Homo sapiens: one gene and its partner. The protein of the gene in region 1 purifies or fractionates together with the protein of each later gene. This does not show direct contact. Each region holds a gene or a part of one and is shown on either strand. Other genes may lie near its edges.

Region 1 (7,020 bases):
CCAGCCTGGCCAACATGGTGAAACCCCGCCTCTACTAAAAATACAAAAATTAGCCAGGCATGGTGGCACATGCCTGTAATCCCAACTACTCAGGAGGCTGAGGCAGAAGAATCTCTTAAACCCAGGAGGTGGAGGTTGAAGTAAGCCAAGATCATGCCACTGCACTCCAGCCTGGGCAACAGAGTGAGACTCCGTCTTAAATAAATAAATAAATAAATAAGACAGAATCATGGCCGGGTGCAGTGGCTCACGCCTGTAATCCCAATACTTTGGGAGGCTGAGGCGGGCGGATCACCTGAGGTCAGGAGTTCGAGACCAGCCTGGCCAACATGGTGAAACCCCGTCTCTACAAAAATACAAAAATTAGCTGGGCACGATAGTAGTGGGTAATCCCTGCTACTCAGGAGGCTGAGGTGGGAGAATCACTTGAACCTGGGAGGCAGAGGTTGCAGTAAGCCGAGGTCACGTTATTGTACTCCGGCCTGGACGACAGAGCAAGACTCTGTCTCAAACACACACACACACACACACACACACACACACAATCAGTGTATATACACACACAAAAGGACACAAGACTGAAAGGATATGCAACAGAAAATTAATAGTAAATGCATCTCAGAATTATATTTATTTTTTTCTACCTCTTCTTTGCCTGTGCATACTTTAAGCCAACATGGTGGAACCTTGTCTCTACTAAAAATACAAAAATTAGCTGGGAGCGGTGGCAGGCGCCAGTACCCCAGCTATTCAGGAGGCTGAGGCAGGAGAATCGCTTGAACCCAGGAGGCGGAGGTTGTAGTGAGCCAAGATCGTGCCATTGCACTCCAGCCTCGGCAACAAGAGCGAAACTCCATCTTAAGAAAAAAAGAAGGGTGTGATAGTTAAATTTATGCATCAACTTGGCTAGGCAATGGTGTCCAGATAGTTGGTCAAACATTATTCTAGATGTTTCTGTGGAGGTTATTTTTTAGATGAGATTAGCCTTGTAAACTGGTGAAAATTGGGTGAAGGAGATTACCCTGCATAGTGTGGTGGGTCTCATTTAATCAGCTGGAGGCCTCAATAGGAAAAAGACTCACCTCCCCTGAGCAAGAAGAAATTCTGCCAGCAGAACTTCTGAGGCAGCAGAATGCAACATAAACTCTTCTCTGGGTCTCCAGTCTGCCGGCTTACCATGCAGATTTTGGACTTGCCAGCCTTCAGTCACGTGGGCCAATTTCTTAAAATCTCTCTCTTGCTTTGGTGGGTGTGTGTATACCTGAAGAGATGCCTGAATTGACAGCCCTCAGAGATAACCTATCGTGGACTTCTAGCCTCCAAAACTATGAGACAATAAAATTCTATTGTTTGAGCCACCCAGCCTGTATGACACTTTGTTATAATAGCCCTAGCAAACTAATACACAGATGCAACAGTAAATTAATAGTGGATATCTCTCAGTTAGAATTACACTTGTTTCTTTTTCACTTCTACTTTCTTGCGCACATTAAAAAAATTTTTTTGACTATGAACAAAGACTTTTTTGGTAATGAGGAAAAAAAATCACTAAAAACAAATGACATAAGCATTCCTATACTATGTAATTCTGTATCTGCTTCCTATACTATAGAGAGTCAATTCTTTCTCTTAGTTATTAAAAGAACTTCTATTGACTATCCATAACTTATTGCCCAAGTGCTCATCTGACTGTTCACACTGCAAAAGGACACTCACCTTCATAATCTCTTATTGAATCTTCTGTCCTGACCCCAGCCATATTATACTGGCTGCTCACAGACTGAGAAAGCATTCCTTCTAATCTCTCCAGTGTGGCTTGGCCTTCTGCTGTTAGATGGGATAATCCTTCTTCATAGGTGTAAAATGTAGGGATGTCCCCCTGTCCTTGTTCTAAACAAACAGAAAACTTTAAAGTTTAAATACAACAATTAGAAAAAACAAAATGGAATCAATAATATATCTGCCGCCAGCCTGGCCAACATGGTGAAACCCTATCTCTACTAAAAATACAAAAATTAGCCAGGCGTGGTGGCACGCGCCTGTTGTCCCAGCTACTCAGGAGGCTGAGGCAGGAGAATCGCTTGAACCACAGAGGTGGAGGTTGCAGTGAACCGAGATCACGCCATTGTACTCCAGCCTGGGCAACCGAGCAAGACCTTGTCTTGGAAAAAAAAAAAAAAAAAAGAATCTGCTGAAGATAATATACTGTCCAAATAGGCTTCCAGGAAGATACTTTTGAACATTTATTTATACACACATATAGGCTACTGCTGAAGACAGAAATACAAAGAAGATGTACCTACTCTCTAGGGTTATTAAAAGAGATAACAAGCCAGTAAACAGCAATTCCCAAAGAATCCCAAGTCCAGGGACTAGAAAAAAAAAGTGTGTTCCTAAGGTCAGAGAGTCCTACATTATCCTGAGGTGGGAATTTTACAAGTGAGCACAAATTAATTTGGTATTAATTTGTAAAATGAAGATGTTTTCTGATTAAAAAACATGCTCCTTTCTTAAAAAAAATCAGGGCCAGGTGCAGTGGCTGACGTTTGTAATCCCAGCACTTTGAGAGGCCGAGCTGGGAGGACTGCTTGAGCCCAGGAGTTCAAGATCAGCCTGGACAACATAGTAAGACTTCATCTCTCCAAAAAAATGTTTTTTTTAATTAGCCGGGCACGTGGTGTGCACCTGTAGTCTCAGCTAATCGGGAGACTGGGGTGGGACAGCTTTGGTCCAGTAGTTCAAGGCTGCAGTGGGTGGAGAATGGTACCACTGTATTCCAGCCTGGGCAACAGAGTTAGACCCTGTTTAAAAAAAAAAAAAAAATTAGAAATTCTGGAACATACAAAAAGGATGAAAAATTTTAAATCACTCAAAAATCTCAGAAAGATAAGGATATATTTGGATATATTTAGGTATGTGATGGCGGATCCCAGAAATGTGTTTATCTCAGGCCAGGAAGTGGGTACATATGAAGGAAAGGGCTTTGGATACCCAGATTGGTGTACATAAGACCAGTAGGGAAAAGAAAAGAGAACAGCAGGTACTTCAAGCTATAAAGACTCTTATCACGCTAGTGACTGCATTCTGGTCTGGGGGAGGCAATCGGAAAGGGCTCTTAAATAAATGAAGTATGGTTCTGAGAAAAAGAAATGACCTTGGCAGTGAGCTGTTTGAAGGAACATGTTAAATAAAGATGCAGGCCAGGCCCGGTGGCTCATGCCTGTAACCCAGCATTCTGGGAGGCCAAGGCCAGAGGATTGCTTGGGCCCAGGAGTTGGAGACCAGCTTGGGCAATATGGCAAAGCCCAGTCTTTATAAAAAATACACAAAAATTAGCCAGGCATGGTGGCGCAAGCCTGTAGTCCCAGGTACTCAAGAGGCTGAGCTGGGAGAATCATTTGAGTCCAGCAGGCAGAGGTTGCAGTGAGCAGAAATCACACCACTGCACACCAGCCTGGGCATCAGAGTGAGACCCTGTTGCAAAATAATAATAGTAATAATAAAACAATATAAATGATCCAGGTTCTCAAGGTGTAGAGAGAGAAGCTTGTTCTCTGGGGGCAGCTGCCTCAGCTTAAAAGACTTTCCTGACCATCCACTTCCCTATCTACCATTTTCTTTCCTCCCATATGCTCTACTTACCCATTCTTCCCCATAACAATCTCTATTTCTTACACTCAAAAATTTGTCTGTTGCAAAGGGCTTTGGCATAAAGTGTTCTACCGTGTCATTCTATTTTAATAATAATCTTACCAGCCAGGCACAGTGGCTCACACCTGTAATCCCAGCACTTTGGGAGGCCGAGGCAGGCGGATCACCTGAGGTCGGGAGTTCAAGACCAGCCTGACCAACATGGAGAAACCCCATCTCTACTAAAAATACAAAATTAGCCTGGCGTGGTGGCGCATGCCTGTAATCCCAGCTACTTGGAAGGCTGAGGCAGGAGAATCGCTTGAACCTAGGAGGCAGAGGTTGCAGTGAGCCGAGACCACGCCATTGCACTCCAGCCTGGGCAACAAAAGCGAAAACTCCATCTCAAAAATAATAATAATAATTTTACCATACTGCATACTTTACAGTCATATAAAGAACTATAATCCTCTACCCTTAATACAAATAAATGCTTAAAATGAAACACTAAACAAACAAAAAACCCACTTTAAAATCCATTTCACTAACCATGTGCTTCCACATCATATTCTTCTCCATCGTAGTCATCTGAATCCTCATCCTCAGGATCTGGATGCAAGGCCTGGCATTCGCACATTGCAGTGAACATTGCCTCCACTGAACAAGGAAATTAAACTGTAACCAATCTTTTTTTGTAATAAAAGTAACCATCAGTGCAAATAAATTTAATGGGTACACAAAACGCCACAGTATTTACAAAATCTGCCAAATTGTAAGATCAATCTTGAAAGCGGTTGAAGCAAAAGACAAGTCATAAAATAATAAGAGTTCATTATGAGAGATCATTGCAATCTCTTCATGGCTCGTGGGATTTTCCAAGAAAAAAGGGTCAGAGTCCTGGTAAGACTGCTGGCATCAGGGTGAAGGGTGAAGACTGCTCTCAGCTGATAGGGCTCTTTCCAGCCATCCTGAGATCTTCCACTTTAAAACTGCCATAACTCCTCTGCCATCCAGCAGGTGAGATTAAGTCAACAGCACCAATCAGTAAAACTAACCAGAGTCCACTCACAAAATATACCCAGATGACAGAGTGTCTACAATATTCTCACTACATTCACAACCTTTGATATTAATAGGTATTTGGTCCTTAATGATATTACCAATGCTAAAATAAAGAAAAAGCAATAGAATGGAGGTAATGGTGGTAAAGGTGAGAGGTGTGTGTGTGTGTGTATGTGTGTGTGTGTCAATTGGGAATGCTTGGTATGTAAAAGGGGAAGAATCAATACTGTAGAACACTCACACGCTGATTTATCACTAGGCACAAATCTAAATTCAGTAATAGGTTCAACATCATCATCACTGTCTTCCTCTTCTTCATCAGCAACAGGTTCTTTTGATTCTTCTAGAAAATAAAATACCCTTTTAATGTCATTATTTGACTTTAAAAAAATGAAGCATATTGAAAATCTGAATATTGCAATTCAATTTTAATTTCCAATTATGGTTGACAAATTTATTTCCAATTATGGTTGAAAAATTCTGATTATACAGTGAGCATCCTAGAAAAGCCTTGCCTCGATCTCCTGACCTCGAGATCCACGCACCTTGGCCTCCCAAAGTGCTCCCTCCGCGCCTCACCGGGAATGAATTTTTAAGGTTATTTTTAAGGTAATCTAATCTCATCAACAATGAGCTAAGGGTCAACTTTTTTTTCTGAGACTGGGACTTGTTTTGTTGCCCAGACTGGACACCCTTGCCCTCTCAGGCCCAAGCGATCCTCCCACCTCAGCCTACTAAGCAGCTGGGACTACAGGCACTTGCCACCACACCCTGCTAATTTTTGTTTTTTTGAGATGGGGTCTTACGATGTTGCCCAGGCTGGTCTGAAACTCCTGGGCTCAAGTGATCCTCCTGTCTTGGCCATTCAAAATGCTGGGATTGTGGCTGGGCACGGTGGCTCACGCCTGTAATCCCAGCACTTTGGGAGGCCGAGGTGGGCGGATCACGAGGTCAGGAGTTTGAGTCCAGCCTGGCCAATATGGTGAAACCCCGTCTCTACTAAAAATACAAAAATTAGCAAGGCGTGGTGGCAGGCGCCTATAATCCCAGCTACTCAGGAGGTTGAGGCAGGAGAATCATTTGAACCTGGGAGGTGGAGGTTGCAGTGAGCCAAGATCACAGCATCGCACTCCAGCCTAGGTGACAGGGTGAGACTCCATCACAAAAAAAAAAAATGCTGGGGTTACAGATGTGAGCCACTATGCCCGGTCCTGATGGTCATTTTTTTTTTTTTGAGACGGAGTCTTGCTCTGTCGCCCAGGCTGGACTGCAGTGGTGCCATCTCGGCTCACTGCAAGCTCTGCCTCTTGGGTTCACCCCATTCTCCTGCCTCAGCCTCCTGAGTAGCTGGGACTACAGGCGCCCGCCACCACACCTGGCTAATTTTTTTGTATTTTTTTTAGTAAAGACGGGGTTTCACCGTGTTAGCCAGAATGGTCTTGATCTCCTGACCTCGTGATCCGCCCGCCTCAGCCTCCCAAAGTGCTGGGATTACAGGTGTGAGCCACCGCGCCCAGCCCTGATGGTCATTTTTAAAGAGACTTACAGAGGTATGCCAAAGAGAAAAAAAAAAAACTTAGAGCTTAGAGAATCAGAATGCAAGGAACAAAGGCTGGGAAAATATGATTCAAGCACATGTAATTTATGAGAGGAGTTTAAGATAAAAAGAACTAAAGGGCCAAGCGAGGTGGCTAACGCCTGTAATCCCAGCCCTTTGGGAGGCTGAGGTGGGTGGATCATGAGGTCAGGAGATGGAGAGCATCCTGGCCAACACAGTGAAACCCCAACTCTACTAAAATACAAAAAAAAAAAAATTAGCGGGGCGTGGTGGCGGGAGCCTGTAGTCCCAGCTACTCGGGAGGCTGAGGCAGAAGAATCGCTTGAACCCAGGAGGCAGAGGTTGCAGTGAGTCAAGATCGCATCACTGCACTCCAGCCTGGCGACAGAGCAAGACTCCATCTCAAAAAAAAAGAAAAAAAAAAAAGGAACTGGAGAATTAGTGAAATAAATGTGACCCAGAAAGATACTAATTTCTAGTAAGATAGGAAATCCTGCATATCTTACTAAGAAAGGATTAATCATAATCACATCAATTACAACCAATCATATAGATTCTGTATGATTATAGAGCACATATTTAAAACACACACCCTAAAACCTACTGAACTGCTTTTTCCTAGTTTAGGACTCAGAGCATTTGCATTTTAAACAAGCTTCCCATGTATTTCTAATGTGTATCCATTAGTCTTGAGTTTGGGAACAAGAGACTAATATACTCCCTTAACTTTTTGGATGAAATTCAGGCTCAGAGAAATGCAAATGACTTGC
Region 2 (7,537 bases), on another chromosome or scaffold:
GAAACCCCACCTCCACCAAAAATACAAAAATCAGCCGGGCATGGTGGCGCTCACCTGTAATCTCAGCTACTTGAAAGGCTGAGGCACGAGAATTGCTCGAACCCAGGAGGCGGAGGTTGTAGTGAGATGAGATCGTGCCACTGCACTCCACCCTGGGCAACAGAGTGAGTCTCTGTCAAAAAAAAAAAAAAAAAGGAAAAAAGAAAGGAAGGAAGGGAGGAAGGGAGGGAGGGAAGAAGGCAGGGAAAGAGCAAGAGAGAGAAAGAAAGAGAGAGAGAAAGAGAGAGAAAGAAAGAAAGAGAGAAAGAGAAAAAGAGAGAGAGAGAAAGGAAGGAAGGAGTTTCCAGAGTAGTGGGGGCACCAAACAACTTCTAATTCTACATTTCCAGTGGCACCACTACATCCAAATCAGCCAACTTAATCCTGTAGTACTTATCCAAATGGCCATCATTAATAGAATTTTCCAAAAAAAAAGTCACCGTTCTAGGGTCTGTCATTTTAATATCTATGGATGAATACATTCTCCCCTTGATTCTCCTTCATGGTCCAATCTGTAGCAATCCTGTCTAATTTAATGAAGCAACAACTTTAATTTATACTTAACTGCCTCCTCAGAAAAATGCAAATAGCAACCTTTGAATATTATCAGGCCTTCCAATGAAAAAGGATACAAAATCTCTGAGTTGTCCAAATATTTCATCCACTTTTCCAATTTGTTCTTTGTTTTCTAAGTAAACAGGAGCATTGAAATAAGGCACCTTATTTTCATCTGTGGTACATTTACAAACTATGTCATCTTCACAGGGATGCAGGAACTCTCCTAATACTGAAACAGGACAAGAAAATGTTAAAACATAGAACTATTTCAAACGATACTGACCAACTGCTTCTGGAAGCTTTCTTTTTGGCTACCTGGGACTTCACCATAACTGCTCTCCTCTGAGGCAGAAGACCACAGTCTTAGGACTTCCTGGGCTGGTATACCAACTCCACAACACACTAGCTATTTGACCTAGGAGAAGTTACCCACCCTCTCTCTAATTCAGTGTCTCATTTTTAGTATGCACTAATAACATATAATGTATAGCTATACCTAATATACAGTAATGTAAGCACTCAATGGAATAACAAATGTCAAGTGCTTAGAACAGTGCCTGGCACACTGACACCATTCAACCTGTAACAGTTATGTTATTACAACTTATTATCTGATTCAAAACTCTGCTTCATTCTCTTGGTTCTCCCTTTTCTTCAATGCCTAACAGAATCAGCCTTCATTCTTTTTTTTTTTCTCTTGCCTTAGAACTTTTCCATTCCCACTACCACCTCTTTAACAATGATTCATTGTTTTCAAGGACATCTGGAATCTCAAAATAACTACCTTTATTTCTAACTAGACTGTCACCCCAAACTAAAATACCACATTCCTGCAAAACCAAGTCTTCATTCCTATCACCCAAGCTCAAAACCTGGAACCCTTTATTATCAGCATTAGCTAAGTTCTACCGATTTTGTTTCCTTTGAAATCTCTCTCCTATCTAACCCTTCCTTTTTTTTCCTCACTGTCACCATCCTGATTCAGGCTCTCAAGGTCTCATGTATGGACTGGTACAACAGCTTGTGGGCTGGGACCTTTTATTCTAGAAACTGCTCCTTTCAAACCATCCTGCATACTCATCCAAGCCATTCTTAGTTAGACACTACTCACCCTCTCTCCTCTTTAATGTAGTAAGTTTCACTTTCTGTGACTTCCATTCCCATCTCATTGTTAATTACTCTAAAACTACCCTAAATAGGTGTTTTTCTAGATTTCCTCTCTGGCAGTTTCCCTCTCAAGCAAATTGTTTTCTCACTTATCTACTTTTGAGTAGTAACAGAAAGCATGGGCTTTGGAGTCAGAATACTTGGCTTTGTATTTCTTTCTTTTCTGTACAGACAGGGTCTCCTGCTTTATTATCCAGGCTGGTCTCTAACTCCCGGCTTCAAAAGATCCTCCCGTCTTAGCTTCCCAAAGTGTTGGGATTACAGGCGTGAGCCACCGCACCCAGCCTGTATTTCAGCTATATCACTAATTGATCACTTATCACTAACCTTATGACCCCAGCAAAAAAACTTAACTCTAAATCATAGTTTTCTCATCTGTAAAATCGGGGAATTAGGCATAAGTACTCACGATTACCTATTTAATATCTTCCTGTCAACCCTCAAGTTCCACCTCCAAGATGCATTCTAAGTATCCCTCAGCTTTCTTGATCTCCCCACTCCACCCTTACATGCTACATTCTCCACACAGGCTTGTGTATCCCAAACTTGCTGCCTAACAACACAAACCCCCAACCCACACCTACTCCTTCAAATAAGCTAAATACTGAAGACTGCATACAGACTACACGTTCTGGAGGTCCTTGGTCTTGGCCTTTGTTAAAGCCTCCGCGGCCACCCCCTCGTCCAAATCCTCCCCTGCCGCCGCCTCTGAAATTGCCGCCGCCTCCACCGCCGCCTCCACCTCGGAAGTGGTTGCTGCTGCCACCTCGGTTGAAGCCGCCACCTCCACCACCTCGATTAAAGCCTCCACGACCTCCGCCTCGAAAAGACATTCTCTCTCCTCCCTGATGAAAAAAAAACGACCTATGTCTTCTGATCACTGTAGCCTCTGAGTATACTCCAACCCCTCGGAGCTGCGGTGAGAACACCATAAAGGAGACAAAAGCAGCCCTGTCACCTCACCCACGGTCAGACAGCCAGTGACCACCAACCTGATGGGTGAAGAGTTTACTTCTCCATGGTCTCGTGAGCGCCGACCGACCACACACCACCCTTGCCGCCCCATGATTAGTATCTCCTCCCCCTACAGACAGCAAGGTCTTCGCACCGCATCCCCTTCCTTCCTCCCTCCCTCCGGCAGTTGGGTTCCACGTCCAGCATTTTCAAATCCTCCGGCTTCTACGGCCACTCACCGGCGCCACGTGCCCCTCTGGCCCTGGCCTTGCGCACACACCCACCCGCGGGGTACTTCCGCCGCGCTGGAACCTCCTCGGTTACCGTACCGCCACAGAGTTTTTTAAAGACCAGAAACTTGAATAACTGGTTTGCCAAAAAAAAAAGCCAATCACCCGCGGAACAAGCAACACTGGTTCCAAAACAGCCTTTAGCGCTGGAAAAGTGGCAATAATAGATAACCTTAACCACTAATTTACAACAGAGAGGCCAACTTGCCTGACGCTGAGCCGTGGAAGTGACGTATAACAGCGGCGTCCTTTGCAGCACGACGTCCCGGAAGTGCTGCGGCAATGTTGCTCTTGGAGATAGCTGGCGTTAGGGATCCGCCTTCTCTCCCAGAGGCGGGGCAGGTTTCTGTTTGGTTGCCGCCCTAACGGCCAGAACTAAAGCACCTTGCAAGGAATGAAGTTGGTTCTTGAAGTCCGTGCTGACTGGCTGGGCGCATTTGCGCATTTGCTTCTCTGGCTGCAAAATGGCCCGCAACAGCACTCACTAATTTGTTGCTAACTTCAGGAACTGTGCGGACAGGTCTCTGAGGCTTCTGAGCCGCGCTATGTCCAGTAGATCTGGGCGCCTCAGAACCTGTCACAGCCGACGGAAGCGTTTATCTGAGTTTCTTGTTTCTTCCCAACCTTTTGATTTTCGCACCATTACGCGCTCAACTATGCCTCTTCTTTTGTCCTATGGTCTCAACTAATTAAAGGAAGAAAAGCAATGCATGTGTGTGTGTAATTTTAAAGAAACTATGCTGTCTTATAGAAAACCAAACCATCATTTTTATCTTTTGTACCAGGTATTCAAGTATGTTTTGAGCACCGACGGGCTGTGAACTGGACTGTGCTGAAAGCTCCTCTCCCTCTTCTCTCTTTAAGCCCTTTATATTTGACATCAGCTTCCCCCACATTCTCCAAAGCTTCTCTCACAAATAAAGGTAATGACTTCCCATTTATTAAATTTGGTTGGAGTCTTTTACACCCAAACCCTCTGAGACCTTACCTTGATATTTGATCTCGTGTTTAGAAGAGGGTGGAACTTGGTACCTATCTAATTCAGAGGGTTATTGTAAATGGGATTTTAAAATACCTTTGTAGGCGGGGCGTGGTGGCTCACGCCTGTAATCCCAGCACTTTGGGAGGCCAAGGCAGATGGATCACTTGAGATCAGGAGTTCGAGACCAGCCTGGCCAATACGGTGAAACCCCTTCTCTACTAAAAATACAAAAATCAGCCGGGCATGGTGGCACACGCCTGTAATCGCAGCTACTCGGGAGGCTGAGGCAGGAGAATCGCTTGAACCCGGGAGGCGGAGGTTGCCGTGAGCCGAGATCACGCCACTGCACTCCAGCCTGGACGACAGAGCAAGGCTTGGTCTCAAAACAAACAAAAAACAAAATAAGTGAGAGAGGAAACTTTACTTGTTCTTTTTCTTTTAGTTTAGTAAATGCTGCAATTTGATTTTAACGAATGTTGGTCTTTTTATGGGCCTATATAAGTGTATTATTTTTGAAACAAAAAATGAAAATTACCTATTTAGTATGAAACCTTTGCTTATCTTTTGCTGTGTATTTGCTCAATTCTGAATTGAACTTGAGATTGTCACACACAGATTGCATTTTCAACTGAAATGAGATGATTTTTGTCTTTACTCTTAAAACTTAGTGAGAAAAAGCTTGCTTGAACAAGAAGTTTTAAAGTATGTCAAAATGTTTATTACTTTCTTAAAAATGTCAAGCTGCTCTTCTTTCTCAGAAATCCAAAACTTGTAGAAGCACAGATCAGGCCAGGTGCTGTGGCTGACGCCTGTAATCCCAGCATTTTGGGAGGCTGAGGCAGGCAGATCACCTGTGGTCAGGAGTTCAAGACCAGCCTGGCCAACATGGTGAAACCCTGTCTCTACTAAAAATACAAAACTTAGCCGGGCGTGGTGGCGGGCGCCTGTAATCCTAGCTATTTGGGAGGCTGAGGCAGGAGAATCGCTTGAACCCGGGAGGCGGAGATTGCAGTGAGCCAAGATTGCGCCACTGCATTCCAGCCTGGGCAACAGAGCAAGACTCCGTCTCAAAAAAAAAAAAAAAAAAAAAAAGAAGGAGAAACACAAATAAGTACATTTCATCTTATATCTACAGTCATACATTCACAAAGTTCTTCCTCTTTTCTCAAAGCCAGGTGCTCAGGCTGAGAAGATTCAAGGAAAGGGTTCCTCACGTAGTTATACAGTTGTGTTCCAGGGGAAGGAAAATATTGTTCGGTTTTGTTCTGCAATTCCCCACGGTGGTTTTCGGTAAGACTTGAGACTTCCTTATTCTAAAGTCCAAGCAGCAGTGGAAACATTTCAAGATCCCTTTTTGCAATATAACTTTTCCAAAGATTCAATATTTATTTAAACCCAAAAATCTTGTCACTCGAAGTAAAACGATTTTCTCCAGGGCCTGAAGATCCTTGTTCAACTAGTTCATGTGATGAAAATGTCTGTTAAGTAGGTGATATGGTTTGGATGTTTGTTCCCTCCAAATCTCATGCTGAAATTTGATTCCCAGTGTCGTAGATGGGACCTCGTGGGAGGTGATTGGATCATGGGGGCAGAATTCTCATGAATGGCTTAGCACCATCCCCTTGGTGATAAGTGAGTTTTCACTCAGTTCACTTGAGATGTGGTTGTTTTAAGAGTCTGTGACCTCTTCTATTTCTCTCTTGCTCCCACTCTTGCCATGTGACATGCTGGCTCCCCATCACCTTCCGCCATGATTGTAAGCTTCTAGAGACCTCACCAGAAACTGATGCCAGCACCATGCTTCCTGTAAAGCCTCCAGAACCATAAGCCAATTAAACCTCTTTCTTTATAAATTACCTAGCCTTGGGCATTTCTTTACAGCAATGCAAAAAAAAACAAAAATGCTGGTTTCCACAGCCATTCTTTATCTTCAAAGAATTTGGTAAAATCTGGGCTACTGTTTTCTTGAATGTATTTCTGTGATTCACTTTCTAGGTCAAGCGTCCTGTTAAGGAGCAGAATCTGTATTACCTTCTCTCACTCCAATCCGTAGTGTCAATAAACATTATTTTGTGTAATTTCTGTAGGTCAGAAATTAAGGAGCAGCTTAGCTGGATGATTTTGACCCAGGGTCTCTCATAAGGTTGCAGTCAAGGTATCACCTGGGGCTGCAGTCCACTGAAGACTTGACTAGGGCTGGAGGATCCTTTTCTGAGGGAGCTCACTGACATGCCTAGCAAGCTGATGCTGCCTACTGCCAGCCCCAGTTCCTTGCCATACAGACCTCTTTACAGGGTGCTTGAGTACTGACATGACATGCCAGCTGGATTCCCCCAAAATGATCTGCTAAGCCATAAGATTTACGCATGTGGAAGGAGATTTATATGGGCCTTGTCCAGGTTTTCACATAGTTTAAAAAAAAAAATTTTTAGAAGTGAATTGCATTATGTTTGATAAGTCATCTTCATAGCATCATCTAGAACTTTTTTCATTTCTGCTCCAAAACTTTCTGACATCAGCACTCTCTGGGAAGAAAGCAATGAGTTGTGAATATGTCAGGATTTTAATGAGAATTGAAATCTCTGAGGGAACCAATCGTTGATAGGGTACCATAAATAGATACTGACACAGTTCTTCCAAGAGGTACCTTCTTTTTCCAATATGAAGACAGTAAATATATCTTTACCTTTGCTTCTTTGCAGCAGTGTTTAATAGAAGAAAAATTTTCTTGAATTTTGCCGTAATTTATAAATCTTGCAAATGCTACTTTATGACATTTGTTGTTGAAATCTGATGATTCATCAACCTGGATGAGAAGTTGTTAGGTTCTTTTGATGCTATGCAGCATTATGTGACATGTCATCAATCACATCAATTTATCAAACTTTGAAAGTGAAACCGTTTTAGTTTCTCATTACATCATATGCTGGCGTCTGACTCTCTGTAATTATACATGCTGAAATTGTGAGGTCCCATCAATTGTGGGGCTCTTTCCTTTTCTAGTCAAAAGGTTCTTCTGCTAAATAACTTGCTTTCTGGGCCTTTTTACTGAAGGTGACTTAAAAAAATAAATACATTCTTTACTCTGGGTTTCCAAAGGCCATATAAAATTATCTGCTCCTTTACTATGGTTTGCAGTTAAGTGTCTTTTCAATTTTGCTGGAGCCATTGCTTCATTTATAAGTTGTGATTCTTCATTACTAACTTTATCAGAATTATTAAGACTTAGAATTCTCTTCCATCTCCCAGTTCATCTTCAAAAATCACCACATTGGACTATAAGTCATGTTTGTAAAACACAGATGCTAATCAAGTATAAAACAAGCAAACTAAACAAGGAAATTTTTTTAAAAAATGATATCTTCAAATGCAATTCACTTTTAACCTGCAAGCTCCATGTGTCAGGCCTCTGAGCCCAAGCCTGCGTGTATACATCCAGATGGCCTGAGTCAACTGAAAACTACAAAGGAAGAGAAACAGCCTGCTCCTGTCTTAACTGATTGACCAACCTTAAGACATTCCATTATGACCTGTTCCTTCCCTGCCC

What was found. The genes of interacting proteins can lie anywhere in the genome.
Region 2: the proteins of CLNS1A (region 1) and GAR1 purify together in Homo sapiens (affinity purification with mass spectrometry; 5 studies listed by BioGRID and IntAct, with this or other methods). This does not show direct contact.

The regions. Positions count from the first base shown.
Region 1 is NC_000011.10:77,620,784-77,627,803, forward strand, and holds part of CLNS1A (methylosome subunit pICln), read right to left. Parts: intron 5,036-7,020; coding exon 4,934-5,035; intron 4,288-4,933; coding exon 4,180-4,287; intron 1,891-4,179; coding exon 1,717-1,890; intron 1-1,716. UniProt on the Homo sapiens protein: Involved in both the assembly of spliceosomal snRNPs and the methylation of Sm proteins.
Region 2 is NC_000004.12:109,811,225-109,818,761, reverse strand, and holds the start of GAR1 (H/ACA ribonucleoprotein complex subunit 1), read right to left. Parts: upstream 3,001-7,537; 5' UTR 2,958-3,000; exon of another isoform or gene 2,757-2,957; intron 2,610-2,756; 5' UTR 2,598-2,609; coding exon 2,384-2,597; intron 827-2,383; coding exon 672-826; intron 1-671. UniProt on the Homo sapiens protein: Required for ribosome biogenesis and telomere maintenance. Part of the H/ACA small nucleolar ribonucleoprotein (H/ACA snoRNP) complex, which catalyzes pseudouridylation of rRNA.